Linked DNA regions of Homo sapiens: regions 2, 3, 4, 5 and 6 are each reported to be linked to region 1. Evidence: microRNA targets listed by miRTarBase, many of them from high-throughput screens and not tested one by one. Region 1 holds a microRNA gene; each other region holds the end of a gene's coding sequence.
Evidence for each region. The annotated mature microRNA hsa-miR-6130 reads UGAGGGAGUGGAUUGUAUG and lies in region 1 at 3,769-3,787, opposite strand. An mRNA with a match to its seed (bases 2 to 7 or 8) in the 3' UTR can be bound and repressed. Matches are read on the target gene's strand: a 7mer-m8 pairs with bases 2 to 8, a 7mer-A1 pairs with bases 2 to 7 and ends in A, and an 8mer does both.

Region 2: the mRNA of SLC2A4 is a reported target of hsa-miR-6130. Seed matches in the 3' UTR shown: 7mer-m8 at 4,242-4,248, 8mer at 3,651-3,658 and 7mer-m8 at 3,218-3,224.
Region 3: the mRNA of MRM3 is a reported target of hsa-miR-6130. The part of its 3' UTR that is shown has no 7-base or 8-base seed match.
Region 4: the mRNA of SRF is a reported target of hsa-miR-6130. Seed matches in the 3' UTR shown: 8mer at 4,073-4,080.
Region 5: miRTarBase lists UBL4A as a target of hsa-miR-6130. Seed matches in the 3' UTR shown: 7mer-m8 at 3,831-3,837, 7mer-m8 at 2,524-2,530 and 8mer at 2,439-2,446.
Region 6: the mRNA of EIF4EBP3 is a reported target of hsa-miR-6130. Seed matches in the 3' UTR shown: 7mer-A1 at 4,535-4,541.

What each region holds. Positions count from the first base shown.
Region 1 is chr21:23,078,056-23,083,140 of GRCh38, reverse strand. It overlaps MIR6130 (microRNA 6130), which reads right to left and starts at 3,857; the gene lies at 3,749-3,857.
Region 2 is chr17:7,286,038-7,291,122 of GRCh38, reverse strand. It overlaps SLC2A4 (solute carrier family 2 member 4), which reads right to left. Exons shown (of 11, transcript NM_001042.3): 11 at 2,866-4,697. The coding sequence ends at 4,494. It overlaps YBX2 (Y-box binding protein 2), which reads left to right. Exons shown (of 9, transcript NM_015982.4): 4 at 1-30; 5 at 588-872; 6 at 1,052-1,155; 7 at 1,398-1,593; 8 at 2,285-2,374; 9 at 2,480-2,860. The coding sequence ends at 2,335. Among named protein-coding and RNA genes, the nearest start is that of YBX2, 6.1 kb to the left of the region's middle.
Region 3 is chr17:791,304-796,388 of GRCh38, forward strand. It overlaps MRM3 (mitochondrial rRNA methyltransferase 3), which reads left to right. Exons shown (of 4, transcript NM_018146.4): 4 at 231-1,206. The coding sequence ends at 766. Among named protein-coding and RNA genes, the nearest start is that of MRM3, 11 kb to the left of the region's middle.
Region 4 is chr6:43,178,371-43,183,455 of GRCh38, reverse strand. It overlaps SRF (serum response factor), which reads right to left. Exons shown (of 7, transcript NM_003131.4): 5 at 4,971-5,085; 6 at 4,574-4,650; 7 at 1,950-4,361. The coding sequence ends at 4,266. CUL9 (cullin 9) reads right to left here and starts at 1,260. Exons shown (of 41, transcript NM_015089.4): 1 at 1,207-1,260. RefSeq lists silencers at 1,060-1,109, 1,130-1,269 and enhancers at 1,520-1,589, 4,592-5,085.
Region 5 is chrX:154,481,363-154,486,447 of GRCh38, forward strand. UBL4A (ubiquitin like 4A) reads right to left here. Exons shown (of 4, transcript NM_014235.5): 2 at 4,866-4,971; 3 at 4,409-4,617; 4 at 2,355-4,287. The coding sequence ends at 4,177. Among named protein-coding and RNA genes, the nearest start is that of UBL4A, 2.7 kb to the right of the region's middle. RefSeq lists enhancers at 629-688, 3,942-4,700, 4,701-5,085 and a silencer at 4,637-4,786.
Region 6 is chr5:140,548,843-140,553,842 of GRCh38, reverse strand. EIF4EBP3 (eukaryotic translation initiation factor 4E binding protein 3) reads right to left here. Exons shown (of 3, transcript NM_003732.3): 2 at 4,767-4,937; 3 at 4,267-4,609. The coding sequence ends at 4,581. ANKHD1-EIF4EBP3 (ANKHD1-EIF4EBP3 readthrough) reads right to left here. Exons shown (of 36, transcript NM_020690.6): 35 at 4,767-4,937; 36 at 4,267-4,609. The coding sequence ends at 4,606. SRA1 (steroid receptor RNA activator 1) reads left to right here. Exons shown (of 5, transcript NM_001035235.4): 3 at 1,659-1,861; 4 at 2,674-2,782; 5 at 2,932-3,775. The coding sequence ends at 3,143. Among named protein-coding and RNA genes, the nearest start is that of EIF4EBP3, 3.7 kb to the right of the region's middle.

The DNA.
Region 1 (5,085 bases):
AAAGTCACTTGATATTTTAAAAACAATTCCCTGAACTTTCAGACCTACTCAGGTTTATGAAGACAGATTACATTAAAAAAAAAAAAACTTTAAATAAGCTCAATTTACAGAGAGAGACAGAGAGAGGGGGAAAAAGAGGGGTGGGAAGAGAGAAATAGAGAGAAATAAAGAAAGGAAAAGAAAGGAACGAAGAGCGGAGGAAGGAAAGAAGGAAGGAGAGAGAGAGAAAAAAAGAAAGAAAGAGAAAAGAAAGAGAGAAAGAAAAGAAAGAAGAAAGATCAAATTTTCAAATTTACAGAGAGTAAGTAAATTTCTTAAGGAAACAAAGAAACTGATTTTTGGTGTAGGTAAAATGTGAAAGATAGCAGTTGTCAAAATGCCTGCATAAAAACGGCACCAAAAGGAGAATGAGCAGTTATATGGTTTTCCTGTTTTAACCAAAGAACACTTAAAGGAATGATTCCACACATGTTAACATATGCTTTCTGTTAAAGTGAACGAAGTATGGCCTGAGAAAGACTCCATACTTTTATCTCTGAGTCCTTGTGGATACTTAATAGGTAGGCAAGATTGAAAACCTAACTTAGGAGTATGTGCCTGTAATAATAGCAGAGTCTTAGCCAATGCCAGCAGCCATACTTCAACTGATCATAGACTGTTGAGTGTTCAAACTGTGTTCAAACAAGGCAAATGCCAACATATAACCATCTAGCTGTTTCTGTGCCTCACTTCTGATTTCTGTATGTCACTTCCTTTTTTAGTCTACAAACTTGTTCTGCCTGATTTGCGAATGGTTCATTGCTCAATTAAACTCCTTTAAATTTAATTTGGCTGAAGTTTTTCTTCTCTTTGCTTTTTTCTTTTGTCTTTTTTTTTTCCTTTTTGAGATGGAGTCTCACTCTGTCTTAAATTTAAAGGAGTTTAAAAAACTAGAAATCAATAATGAGGGGAATTTCAGAAACTTCACAAATATATAGAAATGAAATGATGTAATCCTGAATAACCACTATATTACTGAAGAAATTAAAAGGAAAATTCAAAAAATGTTTGGAAACAAAATGTAAATACAACATATCAAAACCTACGGAATATGGCAAAAACAGTCCTAAGAGGGAAATTCATAGCAATACATTCCAGCAACCAAAAAGAAAAAAAAGATCTTGAATAAACAAGCATTGCATCTCAGAGAACTGAAAAAACAAGAACAAACTATACCTCAAATTAATAGAAGAAAGGAAATGGTAAGAGTCAGAAAGAAAGAAAGAAAATGGGCTAGAAATATGATACAAAATATCAACAAAATGAAGAGTTAGTATTTAAAAAGATAAACAAAATTAATAAACTTTTAGCTAAAGAAAAACAGAGAAAACTCTAATAAATAAAATAACAGAAGAAAATAATACATTACAATTGATACCAAAGGAATAGAAATGATTATGAGACTATCATGAACAAATTATACACCAACAAATGAATTACCTAAAAAAATGGATAAATTCCTTGAAACATGTAACCTACCAAAATTCAATTAGGAAGAAACAGAAAATCTGAACAGACCAGTAACAAGTAGGGAAATTTAATAAGTAGTTAAAAAACTCCCATACAAAAAACAAACAAGCAAACAAACAAAAAAAACGCAAAAAAACTAATAGTGTTATCTTCATTGCTGAATTATACCAAATATTTTTAAAAACAATTAATACTATTTTTTCTCAAACTATTCCAAAAAATTTAAGAGGATTAAATACTTTCAAACTCATTCTATGATTCCAGAATTACCCTAATACCAAAACCAGACAAGGAACACAGCCACAACAGTAAAGACTGCAAGCTAATATTCCTGCTGAACATGAATAATACAAGCATATTCAACCAAATACTAGCAAACCCAATTCAACAGCAAATTAAAACATTCATTCACCATGATCAAGTAAGATTCATCCCAGGGATGCAAGGATAGTTCAACATATGCAAATCAATAAGCATAATACACCACATTAATAGAATGAAGGACAAAATTCACATCTCAGAGAACCAAAAAAAAAAACAAGAACAAATTATATCCCGAATTACTAGAAGAAAGGAAATAATAAAGATCAGAATGAAATAAATAAAATAGGCTAGAAATATGATTTATACATACAGAAAAACATTTTATACATACAGAAAAACATTTTACAAAATTTAACATCCCTTCATGAAAATAAAAGAAACTCTCAACAATTAGTTACAGAAGAAATGTACCTCAACACAATAAAACCCATATATGACAAACTTAGAAATAACACCATACGGAACAGAGAAAAGTTGAAAGCTTTTCCTCTAAAATCTAGCACAAGACAAGGATGTCCACTTTCATCACTTCTATTCAACATAGTACTAGAAGTCCTAGCCAGAGCAATTAGACAGAAGAAAGAAATAAAAGGGATTGAAAGAGAAATTAAAAAGGTAAATTATCTGTTTGCAGATGACATGATGTTACATATAAAAAACTCTATGGATTACACCAGAAAACAGTTAGAATTAATATATAAATCCAGTAAAGTTGCAAGATACAAAATCAACACACAAAAAATCAGTTACATTTCTATATACTAATAGTAAACTATCTGAAAAAAAGAATTCAAGAAGACAATTTCATTTACAACAGCTATTTAGAAAAAAAACCCTAGAAAAAACTTTAACCAAGGAGGTGAAGGATCTTACACTGAAAACTATAAATCATTGATTAAATAAATTGAAGAAAACATAAATATATAGATTTTTCATTTTCATTAAATAGAAGAATGAACATTGTTAAAGTGTACCCAAAGTGATCTACAGATTTAATGCAATGCTCATGAAAACACCAATGGCATTCTTCACATAAATTGAAAAAAAAATCCTAAAATTAGTATCAAATCACAAAAGAACCCCAAATAGCCAAAGCTGAAATCATAACAGTACCTGACTTTAAAATTATCTATAAAGATATAGTAACCAAAACATTATGGTAGTAGCATAAAAGCAGACACATAGACCAATGGAACAGAACAGAGAGCCCAAAAATAAATATGTGCATTTATAGCCAACTGATTTTCAATAAATCTGGCAAGAACACCCAATGAGAAAAAGATAGCCTCCTCAAAAAATGGTGCTGTGAAAACTGGATATTCACATGCAGAAGAATAAACAAGACTCTCTATGTCTCACCATATTCAAAAATCAACTGAAAATGGATTACATATTTAAATGTAAGATCCCAAACTGTGAAAGCTACTAGGGAAAAGCTCCACGACATTCGTGTGGGCTGGTCAAGGATTTTCTATTTAAAACCTCAAAAGTAAAAATTAGACAAATTATACTATTTAAAGTGAAAAAAGCTTCTGTACAGCAGTGAAGAGGCAATCTACAAAATGGAAAAAAATTTGCAAAATATACATCTGATAAGGAGTTAATATTCAAAATATATAAGGAACTTAATAGCAAGAAAACAAATAACCCTTTTAAAAATGGCTAAAAGACTTGAATAGATACGTTTCAAATGAAAACATACAAATGGCCAACCTGTATATTAAAATATGCTCAACATCATAATCATTAGGATATGGAAAATCAAAACCAAAATGAAATATTACCTAATTTCTACTAGGATTACTATTATCAAAAAGGCAGAAGATAAATATTGTAAATAATGTGCCAAAATTGTCACTGTTAGTGGGAATATAAATTAGTGCTATTAGGGAAAACAGCATGGAGTTTCCTCAGAAAATGTAAAAATAGAACTACCATACAATCCACTCCCTCAGTACTGCATATAAATCCAAGGAAAATTACATCAGTATATAGAAGGGATGCCTGCATTTCCACATTCATTGCAGCATTATTCACAATAACCAAGACATGAAATCAACCTAAGTGTCTATTAGCAGAAGAATCACTAAAGAAAATGTGGTATATTTACATAATGGAAGAGTATTCGGTCACAAACAGGAACAAAATCCCACCATTTGTGACAACATCAATGAACCTGGATGATTTCATGCTAAGAGAAATAAGCCAGGACAGAAATACCACATGATCTCACATATGTGGAATCTAAAAAGTGGAACTCGTAGAAGCAGAGAGTTGAGTAGTGGTTACCAGAGGCTGAGCTAAGTAGGAGGAGAGGGATTGGGTGATCCTGGTCAAAGGATATACAATTAAAGTTAGATATAATAATTGTTTAAATGTTTAGATATGCAAACATATAGAGAAAAAATGTAGACAAGTGATTGTATAAGGCCAGGAAGGTTGGGGAGAGGAGAACTGGCGGTGGAGGAGTTAGAGAAATAAGGAATAACCATTATTGGTTATGGAGTTTCTTTTGGGGCTAATGAAAATGTTCTAAACTTGATTGTGATGATGGAGGCACAACTCTGAGAACACTTCATTGTATTGCACATCCTAAGTGGGTGAAGAGTATATGCATTATATCTCAATAAAGCTCTAAAATAAAAATTATGGGTTTATTCTGCTACTTCTAATATCCATCTAAACTTATGCCATTACATACATGTATTCTCCATTTCCCACAGTGAGAATTCTCAAATATATTAATATACTTACCCTTTGTTTAATATATTTTCAAAAGTGTTATACCAACTGCACTATGAACAACAAACCTATGAAGTTGGGTTCAAAATATCTTTCTTTTTAAGAGGCAGGCCCCTATTTGTTTTGATAATTATTACTCAATATTGTATATATTAAATTATCACACTGAGTAATCAGAATATATATGATCTTTATTGGTTAATTAAATATATTTAAAGAAAATATCAAAATTTATTTCTTTAATTTTGTGTGGATACATATTAGGTATATATATTTATGGGGTATATGAGATGTTTTGATATAGGCATGCTATGTGAAATAAGCACATCATAGAGAATGAGAGAATGGGGTATCCATTCCCTCAAGCATTTATACTTTGAATTACAAATAATCCAATTACATTATTTAAGTTATTTAAAAATATACAATTAAGTTATTATTGATGATAGTCACCTTATTGTGCTATCAAATGGTAGATCTTATTCATTCTTTTTTATTTCTTATTTTTTG
Region 2 (5,085 bases), not on the chromosome of region 1:
GTGGAATTTGATGTCGTGGAAGGAGAGAAGGTTTGGGGACTGCTATGGGGTATAGAGTTGACTAGGCTTACGGGAGGGTGGCCTGGAGGTCATCACAGGCTAAGACCCTCCTGGGGCCAGCTCTGACCCGTTCTGCGGGAATGGGACTGTGTTCTCTCACCCTGATGTCCTCTTCCTTAATGCTAGGGCTAAGGGATGTCCTAAGTATGTCCCTGTCATCGGTCGGCAGTGTCTGGGTTTCTTCTCTAGTTCACCAAGCACTTCGACATCCGTTCTCCACGTGGGGCCCTGTCCTAGACTTCCCGAGTCCGCCTCTGGAGTAAAAAGGTGGATGCTGGCTGCCAGGCCTTTCTCCACCCAGTCGTATACTCAGGAGGGTGCAGTAGCAATTATTTCAAAAGGACATGTTGCTCCTTCCCAAATGGGTGCAAGCACATTCCACTGCCTCTCCAGGGAGGGTAGAAAGAAGTTAGAGGAGCTAAAGGAAAGCTGGAGAGGGGTCTTCCCCTGAAAGAAGGGGAAGCAAGTTGGGAAATGCACATTGGCTGTTGGAGCAGGTTCTCACTATTCCCTTACCACCTTCCCAGGGCGCAGAAGCCACTAATGTAACTGGGCCTGGGGGAGTACCCGTGAAGGGCAGCCGTTATGCCCCCAACCGACGTAAGTCCCGCCGATTCATCCCCCGGCCTCCCTCAGTTGCCCCACCACCCATGGTGGCAGAGATCCCCTCGGCGGGGACAGGACCTGGCAGTAAAGGGGAGCGGGCTGAAGACTCTGGGCAACGGCCCCGACGATGGTGCCCCCCACCCTTCTTCTACCGACGGCGGTTTGTGCGAGGCCCCCGGCCTCCCAACCAGCAGCAGCCTATAGAGGTGAGGGGATGCTGGAATATGGGAGCCAGTTCCCCAAGTTCAGGAGAGGAGTGGGAGTTAGGATAGAGACCATGGGTCCCCAAAGAAGGAGGAACTGAGGGTTGGGCAGAGCTGTGGATAATCTGGCTCCAGAGCAGCTGCTGTCCCCACAGCTCACCGGGGCCTTTGCATGTTCCCAGGGCACTGACAGGGTAGAACCCAAAGAGACAGCCCCATTGGAGGGGCACCAACAGCAGGGAGATGAGCGAGTCCCCCCGCCCAGATTCCGGCCCAGGTACCGAAGGTAAGACCCCCCTGCTGGGGCTTGGTCTTCCCCTTCCAGTGTTGGATCCTTGGGGCAAGGGACAGGAGGATGGAAGGGTGAAGCTCTAGGCAGAGCCTGGGCTCCTGGCGAGACAGGTGCCTTGCGGGGAGGCAGTGCTCATGGGCTGGAAGCCTGGCTCCTGGAGGTGGGGTGGGGCAGCTGGGTGAGCCCTGGGGAGGGAGTATTCCCTGGTCCCCTCAGAGCCTTGTTCCTTGCCTTAGGCCTTTCCGCCCCAGGCCACGCCAGCAGCCTACCACAGAAGGTGGGGATGGTGAGACCAAGCCCAGCCAAGGTCCCGCTGATGGTTCCCGGCCTGAGCCCCAGCGCCCACGAAACCGCCCCTACTTCCAGCGGAGACGGCAGCAGGCCCCTGGCCCCCAGCAGGCCCCTGGCCCCCGGCAGCCCGCAGCCCCTGAGGTGAGGACCTCAGATGTGGGATGAAAGAAAAGGCTGAGACCAGCTCCCTCCCCCACCTGCTCCTTTTTCTTTCCTACTCTATCCTTTGGCTCCTCCCCTCCCCTGCCCTGGCCCTGCCACCACCCTCTTCCATGCAGCCTGCTGGGTCCCCCCCTGGCAGGTGCCGCCTCCCACCAGGAAGCCCCCACAGAGGCAATCAAGCCCATGATTGCCCATGATGGCCATGCCCCCCCCAACCCATCCCCCACTTGCTGCCTGGAGCCATCCTACCAGCTTGTAGATGTGAACTGAGGGGTGTGATTGAGGTTTTAATGGGAAGGGAAAAAGTGAAAGAAGGTTGAAGTTCAGGGCCCTGAAGAACAAGTCTCAGCCCTGCGCGATGTCTCATGCCTGTAATCCCAGCACTTTGGGAGGCAGAAGCAGGCAGATCAGTTGGGGTCAGGAGTTCAAGACCAGCCTGACCAACATGGAGAAACCCCGTCTCTACTAAAGATACAAAAATTAGCCAGGCGTGGTAGCACATGCCTGTAATCCCAGCTACTTGGGAGGCTAAGGCAGGAGAATCACTTGAACTGGGAGGGGGAGTTTGCAGTGAGCCAAGATCACGCCACTGTACTCCATCCAACCTGGAGTGAGACTCTGTCTCAAAAACAAAAAGAACAAGTCTCAATTGGCCACCGCTGTTCTTTAGACCTCAGCCCCTGTCAACAGTGGGGACCCCACCACCACCATCCTGGAGTGATTCCAACTCAACTCAGAGGACACCCAGAGCTGCCATCTGGTGAGTGGCTGGTGCAGTTGGGTGGGTGGCCAGGAAGGTGAGGTACTGGGTGGCGATGACAAGTCGCTGTTGTTCACAATCCGTCCATTTCCTTTTCTCTCTCAGGTATCTGCCAGTTTTTCCAAATGACCTGTACCCTACCCAGTACCCTGCTCCCCCTTTCCCATAATTCATGACATCAAAACACCAGCTTTTCACCTTTTCCTTGAGACTCAGGAGGACCAAAGCAGCAGCCTTTTGCTTTTTCTTTTTTCTTCCCTCCCCTTATCAAGGGTTGAAGGAAGGGAGCCATCCTTACTGTTCAGAGACAGCAACTCCCTCCCGTAACTCAGGCTGAGAAGGAACCAGCCAGCTCTTACCTCCTCCTGGTTGCTTTTCTTGCCCCCACCCCAAGTTTATTTTTGTTTTCCCCCGGCCCCCTACCTCTGAAGCCATTTTATGATCTGTCATGTGCCACCTGAGCCTCCAGTAAAAACAAAAACAGGCTTTCCTGTGGTCTTGGTCTCCATCTCTTCTGTTTTGGAGAATCGCTAGTAACTCACTGTTGAAGGTGGGGAGGAGGGGATGTGGGGCCGTGGGCAGGGCCTGGCATCCTTGCTGCCATGTCTCCAGCTGTGTCCCTGGTGAAGAGTGCCCCTATCATGGGTTTCACTGCCCATCTGTGACATGGGCTGACACCTCCCTCACAGAGTGAGTATTCTGCAAATGCCAAGAGCAATGCCCGGCACTGGCAGCTACAATTTATTGAGCATTTACTATTAATAAAGCAACGAGTAGAAATGTGAGTAGGGGCATGAGCAATGGCATCCAGAAGATTCTGAGGCCTTGAGCTGAGGCAGGACAGAGGGAGGAAGAGGGGTGAAGAGTTATGGTCCCTGTCTCAGCCCATCCTCAAGTACCTCCACAATAGGATGCTTGTCTTCAGCAGTGACTTTATAGAAGTATCTATATATATACATTTAGTACAACCGACCTTTGGTTTCTTCTCTCAATCCCCTTTTCAAACGTATATAAAAATATCCAAAGGCTCCTCCCAGCCCAGTGTTTCCAGGCAGCCTTTCAAATCCCCTCTTTGCCTTAGTTGGTCAAAAGCCTGTGGATGCAGCACCCTTCCAGGAAGGGAGAGGAAGAAAGTTAGGGCTCCTTCTTGGCAGCCTTGGGAAACCATCGGGGTAGAGCCCCAAGCCTAGAGGCGGGAGCCTGCCGTCCTTCCATCTTGCCACACATGGGCACATACTTTCCTGTTCCCTCTTGCCCTGGAAGGCTGAGCCTGCAGTGAGGGAGGTGAGTCCTTTTCCCTGCAGGGGTCAAGAGAGAACTCCCTTCGCCAGGCGCGGTGGCTCACGCCTGTAATCCCAGCACTTTGGGAGGCTGAGGCAGGCAGATCACGAGGTCAGGAGATCGAGACCATTCTGGCTAACATGGTGAAACCGCGTATATACTAAAAATACAAAATAAATTAGCCAGGTGTGGTGGCATGCGCCTGTAGTCCCAGCTACTCCGGAGGCTGAGGCAGGAGAATGGCGTGAACCTGGGAGACAGCTTGCAGTGAAGCAAGATCACGCCACTGCACTCGAGCCTGGGCGACAGAGCGAGACTGTCTCAAAAAAAAAAAAAAAAAAAAAAAAAAAAACCCCTTTGCCCAGAGTCTGCGTGGCAAGAATTCAGTGAAAGTCCCAGATTGTGGGAGGAGTCCAAGGTGGTGGGAAACTGGATTTCTTGTCTCCTGTCCTGCTCTCTGCTCTGGTTTGTCCCACTGAGAAAGTCTAGACCTGTCTTCCCTCCAATCCCCCTTCTCTAGCAGCGAAGAAGGTATTCTGGAGCTGAGTCTGGGGAAGGTGGGGAGGAAAGGGGATGGGGGAAGGAAGAGGGAGGGGAGAGTGGCCCACCCTGATGGCCACGGCCAAACCACAACACATAAATAATCCAAGAGAGTCACACGAGGGGAATGAGGGGGTGCTCAGACCACCCTTCCCCCAGCTTCCCAATTCTACCAGGCTGCAGGGATTCTTTTCCACCCGGAAATAATAGGGAAGAGAGGGTTAAAGTGCTGCAGAGGAAAGGAAGGGGTCTCTGGGCCGGGTAGAGAGAGCTGGCTCTCCCACCCCTGCCTGGCCCCTCAGTCGTTCTCATCTGGCCCTAAATACTCAAGTTCTGTGCTGGGTTTCACCTCCTGCTCTAAAAGAGAGGGTGTCCGGTGGAAGGCAGCTGAGATCTGGTCAAACGTCCGGCCTCGAGTTTCAGGTACTCTTAAGAAGGTGAAGATGAAGAAGCCCAGCAGGAGGACCGCAAATAGAAGGAAGACGTAGGGCCCCATAGCCTCCTGGGACAGGTGGAGAAAGAGGTGTTGACGGAGTGAGGTGGGGAGGGAAGGGGTAGTTTCAGGCAACCAGGAGCTAAAGGCCTTCATAGGGAGCTGGGGGGACGGCAGACAGCAGCTGCCTCCTCCAGGGACAAGGGAAATGAGCAGGAATGAGAATTTACACTGAAAAGAGGATTCTCTGAACCCCAAACACTCTTAGTTTTCGCCCTCTTCACCATCCTCAGTTACTGCACTCAGAGGAGAGTCCCAGCTGTTTGTAGTATTAATGCAAAGTGTATCATTTTATTCTTGGAGTAAGGTAAGTTATGCCACTGGTGCGTTTCAGACACCTCAGTTACTATCCAATCTAGGTCAGCTCCCTTCCTTGCTTTGATTCTGTGGAGCAGGT
Region 3 (5,085 bases), not on the chromosome of region 1:
GAATGGGAGATGTTGAAGGGATGCATAAAATATCTTCAGCACTAGCAGGAGTGACTCCTATAGTCGCTGTGCTGGATGCTGTCAGAGAGAGGCAGAAGGTCCCATCCCTCAAGAAAGCTATCATAGAAGAACTGGTTTATCTCCTGATCCAAAATTGATCAGACTTACTCCACAGTCCCCTGGTCTGGGAAGATTTGTAACATCTTGATTGTTTCCTTTTTATTTTCCAGGCTGTGTGGATGCCTGGGAGCCCAAAGTGCTCCGGGCGGGTATGGGCGCACATTTCCGGATGCCCATTATCAATAATCTGGAATGGGAAACCGTGCCCAATTACCTGCCCCCTGACACTCGGGTCTATGTGGCTGACAACTGTGGCCTTTATGCCCAGGCTGAGATGTCTAATAAAGCTAGTGACCATGGCTGGGTGTGTGATCAACGAGTGATGAAGTTTCACAAGTATGAGGAAGAGGAAGATGTAGAAACCGGAGCCAGTCAAGATTGGCTGCCTCATGTTGAGGTTCAGAGTTACGACTCGGACTGGACAGAGGCGCCGGCAGCTGTGGTGATTGGCGGGGAGACCTACGGCGTGAGCCTGGAGTCCCTGCAGCTGGCCGAGAGCACTGGTGGCAAGAGGCTGCTGATCCCCGTTGTGCCTGGTGTGGACAGCCTCAACTCGGCCATGGCGGCAAGCATCCTGCTTTTCGAAGGGAAAAGACAGCTGCGGGGGAGGGCGGAGGACTTGAGCAGGGACAGGAGTTACCACTGAGGACGCAGAAGTGACTTCTGCTTGAGGACGTCTGCAGCTCCTCCTACACCAGCACACTGGTGGGAGGCTGGCGGAGTCAGTGACTATGGCCCCCACGTTCAGGAGGAAGGTGTGATGCCGTCATACAGTTACAGGAAAAATAAGAACTTCCTCAGAAAGAACAGGTCCGAATTCTTCCTGTCGCGTCACTGATTTTGAGGTTCTTTTTTCTCTTGGTGACAATAGGTGACCCACGTGGCTCTGTGTGTTTTTAAAAATTGTCCACCAAGAAGCACTTTGTGCCCAGAAAGTTCCTGAAGCATCATCCTGGCAGGGAGGCGCCTGCTCCACCAGCTGGTGGGTGTTTGTAATCGCCAAGCACCAGCTATAGGTCACAGCCACATCACTCACAGCTGATCACTGGTTGGTGGAAAATAAACTATGAGCAGCAGATTACGTTAGTAAGTTGTTTTGTGTCGTTGGTGTGTCACAGTACCTGTCACGTTTGGCCTGGTAACGAGGACGTGGCTAAGGGAACACCAGGAAGCTGAGGGCTACGCTCATGGCATCCAGCAGCTCTGCTCTGGGCTCAGATGGTCTGTCTTTGAGATTGTTCAGGGCTTCACTGAGCCACTGTTTATGTATCCATAGAAACGGCTTAATTCAACAGGCCATGTCAGACCTTCTTGGCACCTCTGCAGATACCTTTTTGAGGACTTTGCAGAGACGGAAGTCTATGCGGAAAACTGAATTTCAAAATCGGCAGCCTCACCCTGCATGTGTCAGGAAAGTGTCACTGTTTCCTGGTTCCCTGTGTTAGTCCTACTTACGTCTCATCCCCCAATGTTTAGAGGCCAAGGTTCTGAGAATGAACGCCCACAATACAGCGGCAGGACCCTTCTGTTCTCTCAGCCCCTCCAGGGCCCAGGGCAAGCTGGATCTTTACCTACTAGCGGCCAAACCAGGATGTAGCCAGGGTGTCAGGGCAAGTGCTGATGGTCATCAATGTATCTATAAGGAACTGTGGGGATGGGGTGGGTGGGTGGAATATGGGACTCTTAAGCACTGCTGGCCAGGTGCGGTGGCTCACGCCTGTAATCCCAGCACCTCGGGAGGCCGGGCGCAGTGGCTCACGCCTGTAATCCCAGCACCTCGGGAGGCCGGGCGCAGTGGCTCACGCCTGTAATCCCAGCACTTTGGGAGGCCAAGGCGGCGGATCACAAGGTCAGGAGATCGAGACCGTCCTGGCTAACACGGTGAAATCCTGTCTTCACTAAAAAAATACACAAAATTAGCCAGGCGTGGTGGCAGGTGCTACTCGGGAGGCTGAGGCAGGAGAATGGCGTGAACCCGGGAGGCGGAGCTTGCAGTGAGCCGAGATCGCGCCACTGCACGCCAGCCTGGGCGACAGAGCGAGACTCCGTCTCAAAAAAAAAAAAAAAAGCACTGCTTTTGCAGCCACACAGAGTTGGAGTTGAAGACAACACAGGAAGCGTTTCCCCACACCCCTCTGCCCAGCGGCTCCCGTAATGGTTTGGACACTGCTCACTCCAGGGAGGTCAAGTGTGTTGCTGGTGTGCCCAGGAGAAACCTTCTTTCTCTTCTACTCCCCCAACTTCCTAGTCAAACTCCCTCTTCCTAGTAAAACCAAATGACCAAGCATGATTCACGTGCCAAGGGGCAGGTTGGGATTGCTCTCCCCTGGGGGAGGGGTGTTTGCAGGGACAGTGTCCTCCCAGGCTGACATCTGAATATTTGAACATCTGCTCTGGAGCCCCACTGTGGTCTGGGCCTGCCCAGAGCTCCACATGAATGGGCAATGCAAGTGTCCCCCCAACACTGCTCCCAAAGGCTGGTGCAGAGAGGACAGGCGGAAAGGCGGCCTGGAGAATGCAAATCCATCCCACTCCAGTCTCCCCAGACACCTCAGGACAGTGCTCAAGCAGCAGGAGTCACGAAAAGGAAGCTCACATCTTTCCAGCCTAAAACCAATCTCGTGGGATTTGTTCCCCGGGTTATACTCCCACTGACTCGTTACAAAATAACAGTGAAAGAATAAACCATGTATTACCTTGTCCTTGTTTAGAAAAAGCAATGTAAACACTGGAAAGTAATTTTTTTTTTTTTTTTTGAGACGGAATCTCACTCTGTCGCCCAGGCTGGAGTGCAGTGGCGCGATCTCGGCTCACTGCAAGCTCTGCCTCCCGGGTTCCCGCCATTCTCCTGCCTCAGCCTCCCGAGTAGCACCTGCCACCAAGCCTGGCTAATTTTGTGTGTTTTTTTAGTGAAGAAAGGATTTCACCGTGTTAGCCAGGACGGTCTCGATCTCCTGACCTTGTGATCCGCCGCCTTGGCCTCCCAAAGTGCTGGGATTACAGGCGTGAGCCACTGCGCCCGGCTAATTTTTTGTATTTTTAGTAGAGACGGGGTTTCACCATGTTAGCCAGGATGGTCTTGATCTCCTGACCTCGTGATCCACCCGCCTCGGCCTCCCAAAGTGCTGGGATTACAGGCGTGAGCCACAGTGCCCGGCCAACACTGACAAGTAATTCTAAGCCCATTTTATCCTGGGTGTGAGAGGGAAAAGAAATTTACATCCCTTTGCTTTAGAGTCCGTGGCTTATATGCCACGGTGCCTTCAGTTCACTTTATATATTCATGGGTATAATTTAGTAGGGACGAGGGAGGGTGCAGGAGGGAGGCAAATTGTCCTTTCTTCAGTGAATACAGGGGAACAGATGGTTGTTATTTGCTGAGTGATTCTGGAAAATCACTACCTTGAATTCTCAGTTTTGAGTCTGACATTTGTTCTGTCACCATTTCCCCAGTAAACAGGAATAAAAAACGAGCCACATTTGACAAGGAAAACACTGCTTGGCCGAGAGACAAACATTGTCAGGATGTTGGCCACGCTCCCGCGCCTTTGTGTGGTGGCGTAGCTGTCACAGTGGCGTCTGCCAGGAGGTGGCAGGCGACACCTCCAAAACCACCCCAGTGCTGAAGGGCGGGGCTGCGATTTTTTCCTGGATTTAAATCGTTGAAAAGGGAGGAAAAGAGGATGGAGTGAAGTCTCCCTCCACCAGAGAGCATTTTGCAAGCTGTCTGTGCTCCGGGGTGTTAAAGCCGGAGACCCATCCAGATTGTCCCAGACCACCTCAGAAGAAAGAACCCGGAGTACAGGAAGACATGGGAACAAAAACGGAGGCGAAAGAGGACGAACGGGAAATAGCAGGAAAGACCGTCACAACTTTTCCCTGTGACTGCAGCCTCTGAGAAAAGCAACTCTGGGCAAAGCATAGGTGTCCAGATGTGCCTGGAGCTCACGCTGGGTGCCCACCGGCTGGCCCTTCGGTTCCTGCTTCGGGGCAGAGAGCGTTGAAATCACTCTCCCCTCGCCCCAGCCGCTGGCTCCTGGCTGGGAGCCTGGTCATTAAGGTCCAGAGGAGAAACAGACCTCTGGGGACCTGCCGTTCACCTGGGACCTTCCGCTGCTTGCCCCGGGGTTGACAGCAACCCCAGATGTCCGCACCAGCCACGCTGGGCCACACTTAGCCCCACTTTTGCCATTCTACCACGCACAGCCCTCACACACACTCCCCATCCAAGGTTCCAGGGCTCTGGGCTGAAAATCACCAGCTGTACTGCAGGGCCTGGGGCTGCCCTCTTGACCAAGCTACCTCTCCCTCAGGAGCAGAGCTGACAGGCTCACCTGTTTTTAAGAAAACATGTTGCCACCTTAAAAATTCCATGATTGTGTTTCCTCTGTTTTCTTTTTTTTTTTTTAGATGGGGTTTTGCCACGTTGCCTAGGCTAGTCTTGAACTCCCGGCCTCAAGCTATCCTCCTGCTTCAGCCTCGAAAGTGCTGGGATGCCAGGCGTGAGCCCCTGCGCCCGCCATGTTTCCTGTTTTCATCAGTGCAGGGAGTGCACACATGTAATAAGCTAGGAGCCAAGTTAGTGGATGAGCTGGTTTATTGCTCAGGATGACTGAAGTCTCAACTACGGAACCATGTTACATTCGAGCAGCTGAGACAGCAGCTGAAGCCAGGTCCTCCCGAAGCTTCAGGAAGCCTGCTTGATGCTCCACGGCTGAGAGTGACAGAGAATCCAGAATAGCTTATGGATGGGTCAGTTCTCGTCTCACCACACTCCCAATATCCAGCTTCCTGGACTGTTGTGTAGGGAAGAGCCACTTTTTTCAGTTGAAGTCTGAGTTCTTATGGGCCATGACCAAGGCTGCTGCTTCCTCAAAAGGCACGAAGGGGGCCGCGTGCGGTGGCTCACGCCTGTAATCCCAGCACTTTGGGAGGCCAAGGCGGGCGGATCACGAGGTCAGGAGT
Region 4 (5,085 bases), not on the chromosome of region 1:
GCTGCAAGGTGGATGTAAAGGGTGGGCCATGGCAGATATAGAGAATGGAGATGACAAAAGGCTGGGATGTTGGGGCAAATGACTGGATAGGAAAAGTATATTCGAGTCTTGTGAAAGGGGGAGGGCCCTAGGGACCAGATAAAATTATGGGAAAGATGACCAGGTCCCACCCTGCCCTTATACTGCATGTATGGTAAGGATTTAAGTAAGTTAAGTAGATAAGATAGAGGTGGTAATCATGGGGTTAAAGGTAGGAAATGAGGTCAGGAGAGAAGCAATATTCAGAGACTTCAGTATCAGATAAATGTGACTCTGAATTCTGGCTTTCTGTCTCACTGTCTGCATAGTTTGGAACAAGTTACTTAACCTCTGAGCTTGTTTCCTCTTCTGCAAGATGGTAGTAATATTCATAGTTACTTCATGAATTTAGTAGGATCATGTATGTAAAGCACTTGGAACAGCATCTAGCACATAAAGAGTGTTCAGTAAACATAATCTGTTATTATTCTTAGATGGAGAAGGTAGGGGAGTCATCAAATAAATGCAAAGTTATTAAGACCGATTATAAATGGGAGTGGAATAATCAGGAAAGATATGCGTGATATGAAGCAGTGCAGGGGCAACAGGGAATAGTGAGAATAAGAATGGAAGAAGGTAAACCCAGATGAAGATATAGTGGTCAGGGCAGGGGTCATGTTGGGGTACAGGGACAGAAGATGAGAGTAGAGGTGAAGAGGAGGGAGAAAGATGGATGTGGACCTCAATGGAGGTAGGGGTCCACTTAGGATGGGGGGCAAGCCTGGATGGTAGCCAGCGATGTGCCAGCGGGCAACTGATTAGCAGCAGGGGGAAGTAAAAGAATCGGATAGGAGGAGGTAGGAGGTGTAACGTCGGCCTAGAAGAGCAACAATAAACTGAGGTGTGGGGGTGAGCTCTGGACGCATGGATGAGACCAGCAGATAGCAAGGTCAAGCCCAAGCTTGCAGAGCCGTGGGGAGGTGGAGGAGGCCAGCACCGCAGAGGGAACGGGTTTGGGGGGAGGGGGAAGGATGGTTGGGGGCGCGGTCCAAAAAAGCTGAAAAGATCCAGTGAATCTCAGAGAGCAAGACCTGGTTCCCTTCGTCAGCCCCATGGACAGTGGCTAAAGGACCGGGGAGGGGACAGGAGAAGGGGAGGGATTGGGTCGGCGCAGAACTCTCCTCTCACCTCCCACCGCCCGGCTCAGCCCTCGCTGGGACCCAGCGGCCGGTCCCGCCGTCCTGGCCCCGCCTCCTCAGAGCTCCCTTCCGGGTCACACGGCGAGTGCACGCACGGCCGGGCACCTACGGGTCCCACCGCGGCCCACGCCGAGCGTGGCGGAACAGCGCGCGAGTGGAGCATGCGTGCTACCGCGGGCGGCTGCACTGGAAGAGGGGCGTGGGGGCGCGCTACCGGAGGAGCCTGGGATCGAGGTCACGTTGCTCCTCTCTCAGCAGCAGGAAGAAGCCGTTTCCATCCAGTCAACTGTGAAGCCCCCTCCTCTTCACTGGGTCGGCCCTCCTAATCCTCCCTCTCCCATCACAGCGATCATGCTGACGAAACATGGTAACCCACATTCCCACCTTAAGGCTGCCCTTTTTGACTTTTCAGTAGGTCAGGTGCCCATGAGTTTCCCAAACCCTTCAGCAATGCTTTGGATTAGTTGTGTCACTTTTCCTGTTAATTAAAATTTGCTCCTCTGCGTTGGCCTTAACACCTAGCGAAGCCACGCACAGGGAGAAGGTCCTCGGCCCCGCAAAACTTTCCTTAAATTAAATCGTATAGAATTAAACAGCCCAAAGCACACCTTAGCATTACCGTTCTCATCAAGCAGCCCGGATCGCTACTCAGAGCAGCAATTTTAGGAGTTTGCCTCGCGTTCATACCCCCATCCCTCCCTAAGTAGAAAAACAGAACCAAAGACCCCACAGTCTGTGCACAAAAATGATACATTTATTGAAAGAGTATTTTTTTTTAATACAAAAGAAAGCTCTGTACATAGGACTGTGACCATGTCCACTATTCCTGGGTCAGCATCCCAGGGGAAGTAGAAACCACTGACATACACACTCACATTCAAGCACACACACTCACTCAGGCGCACACACCCACACACACATACCCCAGAGCCACCGAGGAAGGGAAACACCAAGGGTCGCTGCACATAAAAATATCACCTCAACTCATCCCTGACACACGCATGTCCTCCCAAGGCCACGCTCACACAACACACATTATAAGCACTTTGCCTGATTCACTCACTGGGTCTGTCTTTTGTGGGAAGGAGAGGAAGAATTCATCAAAGGTCTCCTCCCCATGGGTGGGGGAGTGGGGAGTGAGTGAGTGATGGTGGAGTGAAACAAGAGCAGAGAAAAGGGGCTGGGCAGTTACAGACCTGAGTCCCAAGCTCCCCTGCTCTCTGGCCCCTGATTTGCCATGCCCCAGCCTTGAAAGCCACCCATAAGCCCCAGCTATCTCCAGGAGAAAGCCCAGAAAGGTGACTTCCATCTTGGCACCCCAAACTGGGGCAAGACAGCAATGAGGGTTAGAGGTTAGGGGGTTCTCAAACATGTCGGCAAATCATCCCCTTGATAACTAGGCTGTGCATAAAATCTTCCCCCATCCCTTCACCTAATCACAGAAGCCAGCTTGTTCCTACTGAAGGCAGTCTTAGGGGTTAAGAAAATTTCACCCCACTGCTGCCCTGTTTCTGAAAAAGCTCCCCTTCTGGATATAGGTGGTGAAGGTAGGCTCTGACACAGGGTAAAAGACCCTCCCCCCTATGCTGGCCCACCCTCAAGGTCTACCCCAAAGGGGGAGGAGGGGGGTGGGGCATGGCCCCTGTACAAATTACATAAATACTGAGGTTACACTTAGAAAAATAAAGTCATTTTCTTCAAGGCTTTTTGTCTTAATTTAAAAAAGTTACAGTAGCTGCTCACTCCCTGGGAGAACTGCCCATTTCTGGCTCCCCTTTGGCTGCACTCAGCCCAAGAAGCTGCTCCCACTTCTTCTGACCCCCATTCCTGCCTCTCACCCCCTCCCAGACCCCACCCTGCTCACTGCAACTTGGGCCCCAGGCAGCTGCATGCCTGGGACAGCGCAAGGCTGCAATGCCCATGCGTGTGGCACAAATGAAGTCAGTTGCCTCTGCCTGACGCCCTCCCACCCCAACCCCGACATTTGGTCTCCCTCTTCCCTCTCCCTAGCAACAGCCCTAAAGGGCAAAAAGAGGCCCAGAGCTGTGGGTCACCCTCCCCACCCCGTTGGGGAATGGCCTGAGGGCCCCTCCCCCGGCTTTCTCCTGGAAACAACCCAGGACTGGGCAAACCCAGAATCTCCCCCACACACTGGTGGACCCCGAGCTCATGGGGTGGCTCTGTCCCCAGGGGCCCAGCCAGTTCTGGGGAGCCTGAGGGCTCCCCAGGGAAGGGGAGTTTGGGCAGGGAGGGGGACGAGAAAAACGCCATAAAAAAAAGTTAAATATTTTAAAAATATATATTTATAGATTTGTTTTCACTTCGTCTCCTCAAATAAAAAGTTCAAAATCAACTTTAAGTAAAGCAGCTGGGAGGAGAGGGGGGAAGACAAGGGGGAGAAGGGAACGCTGGTGGTTCCCTCCAACCCAGGAGCCCCTGGAGGTCCAAGGGGAGCGGCAAGGCAGGGCAGGCGGCCCCAGGAACCTGCCCAGTGCACAGGCCCAGCTACTCAGGAGCTGAAGGGGGAGAGGACAGCAGTGTGAGGAAGAAGCCCCCATCTCCCCAGCTGGCCCCCTGAGGGGCAGAGCCAGGGCTCTTTTGACCCAGCCTGTGACAGACACAGGGCTGACCTGGGGTCAGCAAGGAGGCTGGCAAGAGGGCCCCAACTGCTTCCTCAGAGGAGGACACGGTGCCCAGCCCCACAGAAGGCCTGTGTGTGGGGAGGTGGGGCACGGTCCCATTGGGTAAGCTAATACTCATGGCAAACATCGAGCCAAGCTGGCGAGGGGGTCCCAGGAAGGAGGACAGCCCCTCCAGCAACAGAAATGGGAGGTGGGGCGGGAAGAAGGGGAGGCTGAGGGAGGACGGGTGGAGGCAGGCAGGCCCATTTCTTTGGCTGGAGTGAGAGGGCTCAGTCCTGTGGCTGCCCGTTCCTCCTCCCCGCCTCCCTCCTGCGGCCCGTCAACGTGTGTGTAAAGAAAACGTGAAAAGGCAACAATAAATAAGTGGTGCCATCCCTTGGGCCATCTGTCCAGGGCGGCGGGCGGATCATTCACTCTTGGTGCTGTGGGCGGTGTCCAGGTTCACCACCTGTAGCTCGGTGAGGTTGCTGCTGCTCCCGGCCTGCTGCCCTATCACAGCCATCTGGAGGGAAGGGGATGTATGAGGAGGGGCAGGGACTGGCCAGCCAGTTCAGGCTCCCCTGGCTTCCCTGCCTGCCAACCACAGGCCTGAGCAGAAAAGCAGATGGGCTTCCAGGCTAGGGATTTTGGCTTTGATGAACTGGTAACAGGATCCCCTAAGGTCAAGACAAAGAAGTGGCTATCTGGGATGGGGTGAAAGATATCCCTACCTACCTGGTGGAGCTGAACTGCTGAAACAGGGATCTGCACTGTCCCAGATGATGCTGTCAGGAACACCTGGGGGACGCCACCTACATTGGAAAACCACAGGAGATACTCAAATTGTTTGTTGAAACTTCCAGATATTGGAGGAGTGGTGTCAAATGCACAAGTGACTGGGGCAGTCTCAGATGTAAGAGCCCAAGGGAAAGGGTGCCAGTGTGTCTGAGGGTGCATGCGGGTGTGAGTGTCCAAGTGGGGTGTCCAAATGTGTGTGTGAGCATCCAAGTCTGTGTTGTATTTGGGTAGAAATATTTGTAGGCATCAGTGCATATGTGTGTGTATGTGTGTGTGTGTGTGTGTATAAAGAAGGAAACGGTCCTCCTTTCCTTAGCCCTGCTCCTCTACTCACCTGGCTCCTGGACCTGGCTGTGTGACACCTGCATGGTGGATGGTGCCTGGGAGAAGGCATTCAGCACGGTGAGGCTGCCATCACCCAGGCCCGAGGTGGGGGCATACATCACCGC
Region 5 (5,085 bases), not on the chromosome of region 1:
TTGCTTGAGCCCAGGAAGTCAAGGCTACAGTGAGCTATGATCTAGCCACTGCACTCTGCACAAGTAACAGACTGAGACTCTGTCTCAATCAAACAAACAAACAAAAAAGTCCATGATATTCAGGAAAGAAAGCAGAGATAAAGGAAAGGTTTTTATAGGGAAATGGCAAGTAATAGCTGTAGAAAAAACTATCAGAAAATTACCATCTTTGCAACCACCAATGTAATAATTAATTGTTATTAACTTAATAATTGATTCAGGATGGCCAGGTGTAGTGGCTCACGCCTGTAATTCCAGCACTTTGGGAGGCCGAGGCGAGTGGATTGCGAGGTCAGGAGTTTGAGACCAGCCTGGCCAACACAGTGAAATCCCATCTCTACTAAAAGTACAAAAAAAATTAGCCGGCTGTGGTGGCATGCATCTGTAGTCTCAGCTACTCAGGAGGCTGAGGCGGGAGAATCTCTTGAACCCAGGAGGCAGAGATTGCAGTGAGCCGAGACCACGCCATTGCACTCCAGCCTGGGTGACAGAGTGAGGCTCCGTCTCACAAAAAAAAAAAAAAATCGATTCAGGCAAGGAATTGTCGCTGGATGGCAAAAGCATTAGCTGAAAGGTTGTTGGGGACAGGATATTCACAAAGTCCCCAAATATTACCCCAAATTACTTGTGAATCAGGAAGGGAAACTGCGTCTTTACAGGGGAGAGATCTGGCAGCAGCCACCTGGATCACGTGATCAAACTGAGCGTCCTCAACAGTGGGGCAGCCTGACCCTGCCAGCTGCCTGATGAGGGGCTGGGGGTGAGTGTGGTCAGAGGAGGAAAGGATACAGTAGCAGCTGCCCTGGATGCTTCCAAAAATATTCTTGCCTGATTGCCTATGGAGAATGGCTAGTTGGGAGAGGCAAAGATGGCCTCCTGCTCCCTCAGAAGCCTGGCTGAGTGGCATTGCCAGTCCTCCAGCCGGGCCGTGGAGAACACGTGTGTGCTGAGGAGCCGGCCAGTGCTGGACGTGAGTGCCAAGAGGGAAGGGACTGTGTCTTCCAGTCTCAGGGTTGCCAGCACCTGGGACACAAGGGGGCACTCAGTGATGAGCAGGGTGTCGTCTGCAGCAAAGTCAGGCGCTGTCTGGAAGACATGGGCTGGAGCTCAGGAGAGAGGGCCGGGATGAGACATAGACATGGCAGTGAGGCACAGAAATAGAAAGCAAGCTGGATGAGCTCCCCGAGGAGTGATACAGAGGGAAGAGAAGGGGCTCAGGGACAGAGCCCTGGGGCACCAACATTGAGGGGTGGGGTGTGTGTGAAGAACCAGCAAGAGAGCCTGAGTAGGAGCAAGTGGTGGAAACAGCGGGAGAGCAAAGGCAGAAGAGGGTGAGGAATGAGGACTGCCGGCCATTCAGTGGGGCCCTGAAGGTGTATGCAGGCCGCTCCAGCTGGGCCCTGGAGGAGGACAGGGCAGTTGCTGTGTGTCTCTCATCTCTCCTGAAGGCTTTTCAGGGCTGGGAGGCTCAAGGCTGGCCACCTCTGCTGCATCTACTCCTGGGAGTACCAGGCCCGGGCAGATCTATTGGAGCTGGTGAGGCTCACATGGGACACCAGCTGATCCATTGCCAGGGAACCTCCCCACCCCAAGGCAAATGCTGCTGTCCTCTGAGGCCGCTCTTCCTCCCGTGGGCCCTTGGGAAACGACACCAAAAGCACCTCATCCCAGCTGGGCCCTTCACTCATGCTGCTATCTCCTGATGTCATTGTAGTCACACCATGGCCGCAGGACTCAGATACTGTCCCGAGGCCCCTCCCTGAGGGGCAGGTGGTGGGTCTCAGGGCCCTTCACCGGGCAGGGGGCAGTGGATGACTCGGTGCTACCTCTCAGGGCGGACAATTGGCTCAGAGGGGCGCAGCACCTGCAGTAAACATTCTGACCCCTGTTAAAGGATCTCAGCATTGGGGGGGCTGCAGCCTGTGGCTGCTCCATCTTCATGCAGAATCCCCAGTGTCCTCTAACGATCCCCCCACTTCCTGTCTCCCATCCCTGCAGTGTTTCCTCTCTCTGGTGCTTTCCCTAACCCAAGCCTCAGAAAACGCTTTCCCTGTGTGATCTTGACGCCTCCAGCCCTCTCCTCCACTACCTGCGAGGTGGCCCTGATCTGACACATGCATGGCCCCTGTAGTGGACAGCTGCCATTTGCGGCCACCATTGAGGATATCCATTCATCCAGCCCTCCCCCAGAGCCTTCTGTCCCTTGCATAGCCCATGTGTGTCCAGGGAAGTGGCCCCATGCCTAGCTCCAGGGAGCCAGCCCTGACGGAGAATTACCCCCTACCCCAGCCAAAATGATTGGACGCACAATCCAGTTCTGACCAACGAGAAGAGTGTTTATTTGCTGGGGGCATCTGAGACAGCAGAGGTGGTACACAGAGAAGATGCTGCTCTGGCAGTGAGGGAGGGATTCCGTGGAAGCTGCAGGCAGCCATCTTTTCATCCTCGGAGGTGGTGGCCTGGGATGTAGCAGATACCAACGCAGAGGGAGGCAGAAGACACTGGGTGAAATTGCTCACCTGCTGCCAATGCCAATACCACTGGACTTTTCACTTTCATAAGCCAAGAAATTTCCGTTAACTGATTAAACAAATTGCCTTTATTGTTAAACCAATGATTGGATATCAGAAACAGCCTAGCTAATATAGCTCCTTTTGGATAAAAGTAGAAGCCTCACATTCACCTTTAATGTTATTTCACTTTTTCCAAAATCAATTTCCTGGCACCACACAAACAAGAACACTGGTAAATGTATCACCTGAACTGCAGGCCACACATGCTCACGAGTGTGTCCCTGCCGTAGGTGGCTTTGAAGCCATATACATGGCTCTCCAGCTCTCGTGGGGGGCCAGGGGCTTCTGTGTGCTCTTCAAAGCCTTCACCCATTGGGCCTCTGTCCATCTTTCCAGCCTGGGGACCCAATATTTGCCCCACAAGGCCCAGGCAGGAGGGCCTCCAGCACGCGCAGCCCTGACCACACTGTGAGCAGCTCACTTGGCAAGGGTGAAGGGCCGGAGTGGCGTCCTCCTGATGTGGCTTCCTTCCAGCCTCTACCACCCCTGGGGGCCTCCTCCAAGGAGCAGGTGGTTAGATGTCCTCTTGTGCCCACACACACGGCAGGGTGGAGGAGGATGAACCGGAACCCAGTCCATGCTTCTGCCCCCACCCTGGCACCCCAAGGTTTCTTCTCAGGCAACAAGGAGCACACAAAGTGAGCCCCTGTACACAGGTGGCTGGGATATGTTCATCTTCCACAGGGAGGCCAGTGCTGGGGATGAGGACAAAGGCCTACGCCCAGTCCCAGCTCTGACACTGCCTTGCTGAGTCACCCATCAGCCCTAACGCTTCCTGGACGAGACAAGCAGATAGGGTGCCCCAGAGAGGAGCTGTGTCACTAAGGGCCAGGACACCCCATCTCTGGGTCACACTTGGCCACGGCTTCATTTTTGGCTTCAGTTTGTTTACTGAACAGAAGGGAGAGGGGCCCTGTGAGACAGAGGACACTGACTCAGGTCGGTGAGTGGCCCTCACTGTATAGAGTCCATGGCTGGGGACCAAGTGGCACTGAGACTCGCCCAAAGTCACATCACAGAGCTGGGGTGCCTTGCTGACTCCCTGGCCCCAATCTGCTTTTCCATTTGTCGAACGCACACTGGCACACTGGCTGCAGCAGCTGCGGGGGTCGGGGGGTTCCAGGGCTGGCTGTCACTTGGCCTCCTGCAGAGGTAAGCTGAGGGCTATGTTGGACCCGCCAGAAGTCAGGTGACAGCTGCTTTCCCTTTCAGGATCGGGAGGGAGTCACCTGAGGGTATATTCTCAGTGGGCTAAACATGACATGCGAGAGCCCAGCTCTCCAAGCGGCCCCTTCCTCCTTCTCACACCAAGGCACTTTCAGAAGCCGCTGGATTCCGACTGGGGCTGTGCCACTTCATCGCCGGTGCCTCTGCTGTGCCGGCTCTCCTCTTCTGAGGGTGTGGAAGCAAACCCAGGTCAAGCTGTGAGGAGTGCCTAGCACCTGGCCAGAGCCAGGTACATGCCAGCTATGATGATGATGAGCCCAACTGCAACAGGAGAACACACTTAGTGCGACATGCAGCGGTAGCCTGGCGTTGGGCACCTCCCCATGCTCCGAGAATTCTATTTGGAGAAGCCCTTCTCCATTGTCTCAGTCACTTCAGGGTGCAGGAAGCGGCTGGCCAACCGTTCGATGTCGTCCAGCGTCAGGCGACTCAGGGACCTCTCGTAATCCTGGGGAGAGAAGGGCAGGAAGATTCAGGGGCTGCCAGTGGTGGGGGGGCATACACTGCAACAGAGGTAGGGGCTGGGAGCAACTGGGCCTGAAGAGGATGCCCAGGGTTACCCTTCTCACCCTCTGTAGCTGTTCCAGGACCCTGCTGGCATCTGCCGCACTGAAGTGGCGGGCCAAGACTTTGGAGATCAGCTGCCAGACCTGCGGGGGTGGGGAGTCGGCCAGCCTCTGGGCCTCGCCTTCTTCTAGTAGCACCTTCTCCAGGGGTTTGACCACTAGGTTGAGCTTGGAGTTGGGCCCGATGCTATAATCCGAGAGTCGTTTCCCATCTGCCAAAGACAGATCGATGGGTTCCTCCTCCTCCACCGCCGTGGGGGTGGCCCGGGGCGCGAGGCCGCCTCGGGCGGCGGGAGCGGAGCGCTGCGGCATCCGGCTGTGAGGCATGCGGCCGCCTCCCTTGGGGTCATGTGGCGCTTGGCGCCCGCACCCCGACCCGACACACGGCTGCTGGCCTCGGCCCGCGCACCCCGGTCCCGCTTCCTGCGGGGCTCCCCGGGCGTCTCCTCTCCCTGGGTACCTGCCAGGGCCTTGCCCTTGAACAGCAGCCGCTGCTGGCGCACTGGGACGTTCAGCTTCTCGGAGACCAGCTGCTTCAGCGTGGACACCAGCTCGTCCTCTGGCACCTGGCCGCGCGGAGGGTGGGAGGCAAGGGTTGAGCCCGCGGCCCCCAGACGGCGAAGCCCACGCGTCCGCCCCCGAGGGCAGCTCTCCCGGCTCCCGGCCCTCGGCCCGGCCGC
Region 6 (5,000 bases), not on the chromosome of region 1:
CTTCCTCCTAAGTAAATCTCAGACTACTCCATTCCCCTCGTCTACTCTTTTACCCTAGTCCATGCCAGCATTATCTCTTTCCTGAACTACTCAACCTCTCAACTGGTGTTCCTGCCACCACTGTTGACCTGTTTTCATCAGTTTTTCACAGAGCATACATGTTTAAAAATAAGTCTGGTCACATCACCCCTTGCTTTTACAAACCTGCAGTGGCTTCCCAGTACCATTGACTCAAGATCAAACTCTTCCAAAGCCCCACAGGGTCTGGACCCTCTGCTTACCTCTCTAATGATAGCTCATACTACTTTCTTCAGTGGTAATAATTTTTAGCCATACAGGCCTCATTACTGTCTCTTGAACAAATCAAAAGTTTTCCTGCTTCTTGGGCACTGCTCTAACCTCGACCTAGTACATGTTCCTTCAACTCTTCATAGCTGCATCTATCTCATCCGGTAGTTCTCAATTTAATAAAAACAGCTCATTTTGTACTTTTTGCTACATACTAGTCTAGCAGCTGTCTTTTTTTTTTTTTTTTAAGAGGGTCTTAGTATGCTGCTCAGGCTGCTCTCAAACTCCTGGGCTCAAGCGATCCTCCTGCCTCTGCCTCCCAGTGTGCTGGGATTAGAGGCATGTGTCACCACACTCAGCCTGTACCTGTATTCCTAATCTTCATTGCAACCTTGTGAAATAAGTGGCATTATATTCATCCCCATTTTACAGAAGAGGAACCTAAGCTCTAGTTGAAAGTAACTTGCTGAAAGTCACATAGCAAGTGAGCTCAGATAAACTTAAATGTACCTCAGAAGGCCTTCCTTGAACACTTAGTCTAGATAGGTTCTCCCATTTCTCTTTATTGCATAAACCATTTTATTTCTTGGTAGCATGTAACATAATTTAGTAATTTTGTGTTTTTTTCCCTGCCTCTAGAATTAAGCTCTCTGAGGTCAGGAACTTAATCTGTCTGGTTTACTTCCTCCTGAGTAGCCAGGACTATAGGTGTGTGCCACCACACTTGACTAACTTTTAAAATTTTTTTATAGAGATGAGGTCTCACTATATTGCGTAGGCTGGTTTTGAACTCCTGAGCTCAGGTGATCTTCCTACCTTGGCCTCTCAAAGTGTTAGTATTACAGGCATAAGCCACTGTGCCCAGGCCTGGTTTACTTTTCTTTTCTTTTTTTTTTTTTTTGAGACAGAGTTTCACTCTTGTTGCCCAGGCTGGAGTGCAATGGCACCATCTCAGCTCACCACAACCTCTGCCTCCCGGGTTCAAGCGATTCTCCTGCCTCAGCCTCCTGAGTAGCTGGGATTACAGGCATGTGCCACCATGCCCAGCTAATTTTTGTATTTTTAGTAGAGACAGGGTTTTGCCATGTTGGCCAGGCTGGTCTTGAACTCCTGACCTCAGGTGATCTGTCTGCCTCAGCCTCCCAAAGTGCTGGGATTACAGGTGTGAGCCATCACACCCGGCCACCTGGTTTACTTTTCTAATCTTTAGTGCCTAGCATATTGTCTGGCGTAGAGTGGGGACTTCATAAATGCATATTTTTGAATGAATAAGTTGTCTCAGAGAGTAGCCCTTCTTAGAAGGGGTGAATTTAGAGTTAAGCTTCTTACCCATTTAAGCCATGTTGCTTGATCCTGCTGTACCTTTTCAGTCCCCGCATCAGAGACTTCTCCTGGGCCTCCCCCAATGGGGCCTCCACCTCCTTCAAGTAAGGCTCCCAGGTCCCCACCTGTGGGGAGTGGTCCTGCCTCTGGCGTGGAGCCCACAAGTTTCCCAGTCGAGTCTGAGGCTGTGATGGAGGATGTGCTGAGACCTTTGGAACAGGCATTGGAAGACTGCCGTGGCCACACAAGGGTAAGCTCTGGCACATCAGAGGTTAGAGAGGGCTCCCATCCACAGCCAAATGCAGGAATGGTTCCCAGAGATAGACCCTCTGACCCAGTGGACAGGTTCTTAATCCTTTGAGAGTTACGGACTCCTTCAGAATCTGCTAAGGCCTTCCCAAAGAAATGAACACAGGATTTCAGGAGCATTAATAAGACTTTTGAAGACCAATCAGTAGAAGATGCTGTGGGAACAAGAGTTGAATTCAGCTCCTATTAGTGAACAACCTGATTTTCTGTATCTCCATGCCATTCAGAGCAGAAGCTGCTGATTTTATTCTCAGGAAATTTATATTGTGCCCAGTTAGGGAGAAAGAAACCTCTTCTAGCTATAGTGTTTTCTTAGTTCTTAGAAAAAGAGATCTGAAGAATGTCTTAAAAGAAAGGGAAAGTAGCATGGTCATTTCACCTCTTTGGCGCTTAGTTTTCTTTTTGTGAAGTAACGCTACAGGATGAGCTTCTGAGAGTCTGAGAAGCCCCTGAAATTTTAGAATTCTAGTCATAGTAGGAGGTGGGTTAGGAAGACTGGTGGTGGGAAGATGAGAGAATTCCTGTTTAATGACCTCTACTTTTCAATGAAACATCAGGCAGTGTCAGAAGAAGACAGCAGGGAAAGGAAGGTTTCATCAGTTTCTCAGTGGGGCCTCTAATCTTTGGGTAAAGAACCAGAATTCTAAAGTGTGGGCCAGAGAAAGCAGGTGCTTCCTATGTGGTGCTGTCTTCCCCTCTCCTCCCCTCATTGGGCTGGCAGCACTGAATTGGAGGGGGGCTTCTGTCTCTTAGAAGCAGGTATGTGATGACATCAGCCGACGCCTGGCACTGCTGCAGGAACAGTGGGCTGGAGGAAAGTTGTCAATACCTGTAAAGAAGAGAATGGCTCTACTGGTGCAAGGTATGGGTGGGTTCTTTGGTATAGCCTAAATCCCTTTCCTGCTGTGGTTGGCTATGCTGGAGCAGGTGCTGAGATTTTGATTGACTGGGAGGGGAGGCATGGAAGCTCTTGTACCACAGGCTGCTTGCTCAACCCCCGTCTCTCTTCAGAGCTTTCAAGCCACCGGTGGGACGCAGCAGATGACATCCACCGCTCCCTCATGGTTGACCATGTGACTGAGGTCAGTCAGTGGATGGTAGGAGTTAAAAGATTAATTGCAGAAAAGAGGAGTCTGTTTTCAGAGGAGGCAGCCAATGAAGAGAAATCTGCAGCCACAGCTGAGAAGAACCATACCATACCAGGCTTCCAGCAGGCTTCATAATCCTCGGTTCCCCAGACTCACCGGACACCATCTCCTATGCCTTGGAGACCTTCTGTCACTTGGCTCCCTTCTTACCACCACCAAGACTGTCCCACTGGGCCTGACCCACCTATGAGGGAAGAAGTCCCACCTGGGCCAGAGGGAGTTCATGTGTTACTCATAACATGCATTTCAATAAAAACATCTCTGCGGTGGGCCTTGGGTAGGAGAGATGAACCCTTCCGGTGCCAAGCTAGTCCCCTCTGGTGTCCTCGACTGCCCTGCTCCCTGTGTATCTGCAAACCTCTGTTCTCCCTTCTCCATTCATCAGGAAGGGATCTGCTGGGTAAAGTCAGACTACTGCCTACCACTTTTTCCCAAAGTAGACTGAAAGCACATCCTGTGCTGGGCGGAGCAGCTGTGTTTGGATGGTTTCATTTCAGCATGAGAACAGACTCAAATAGAACGGGGAGACTTTTCCCTCAACAAAAGGAAAGACAGTCCTATTTGCACTGTATCACCCTTGAGATACTACTGTTACAGAGATTAGAACCACATTGAGTGGGGTTTTCTGTGTAAATCGAAGGAGAAAAAGACCAGATTACTGAGATTGGGGATTGTAACTCTGACTTGCCAAACAAACTGCTGCCTCATTTTGGGTTTCAGTGTGAACTCTAAGGTCTCTTGTAACCCTTTGAGAGAGGTACTTGGTGGACTATCATGCTGTGAGAAGGGTACAAGGTTTTTGGTGTTGGAATAGAGGAACTGGTGCTTAGAGGTGGGAAGCAGAAAAGGCACAGGGAGAGACAGGATGGCTATAGGCTGGGACAGCACCTCTTTTCCAAGAGTCCTGCTTTGGAATGGATAGGGGAGGGGCTGCTGGGGGGCCCTGGTTCCAGGAAGGCTGCTTCCTGGGAAGACAGGAACAGCCCTTGGCAGTGGCCAAGCTATTGCTGTTTATGGTTTGGAGGCTCATGTAACCTGCCACTGTAGCGTGCCTCAGGTTCTAATTGCTGCTGGAAGTGGGCCTGGTGGGAGCTGGGAATGATCTGAGGCCTCTGAGCTTAACCAGGCCTGCCAGGGCCTTCAGCTGTGTGGCTGAGATGAGAAAATCAGCATTGAGGAGAACACTGGAGCCAAGGCATTTCTTTGAATGTTTACTAAGCAGTCAGAAGGTGACTTACTCCATTCCCCAGTTCCAGCCCCTGAGCATAGAGGGTTTAGGGTTAGGAGGAGTACCACAGACTGAAGAGGAAGTAGAGTTAAGGGCTTGGCAAGTTGCCCACTCCTATCCCTGGTCTAGCTGCCTCAGAACTAAAGGAGGCCTGGAACTAACAAGTCACTCCCTTCCAGATTAGATGAGGCCAGCTGGCCTTTGGATGCCCCAGGAAGAGGTGGTGGCAGCAGTGGCATGAGGGATCCCTCTGTAACTCCACATGCCAGGTCATCTGCACTGGATTAGATGTCCATTTCAAATTGTGCGTCATCTGGAGAGAGAAAAGGCAGGAAGACAGGTTGCTGGTCTGAGGATCTGCAGGCTCAGCATCAGTGCAGAAACCCCTCTTGGAACTGAACCCCCGCACTGTGTCACAGTGGCATTTGAACTCAAAGGCTGGGACAATTCTTAATTCCTGCTTTCCTTACCGGGTATCTCTTCCTCTGTCTCCTGCTCCTTCAGCTCCTCCAGCTTGGAGAGAGGGGCTGTTGGAGGAGTTGTGACCCCGGGAATCTGAGGGAGGCAGCAGGGGGGTGTCCGGGCAATGGGTGAGTTCTTGCACTCCAGCAGGAACTTTCGGTCGTAGATGATCCTGGTGCCTGTCAAGGGGTTGGGACTGAGGTAAGAGTCAGGAGCTTGGGTACCGAGGTGACTGGGGTCCC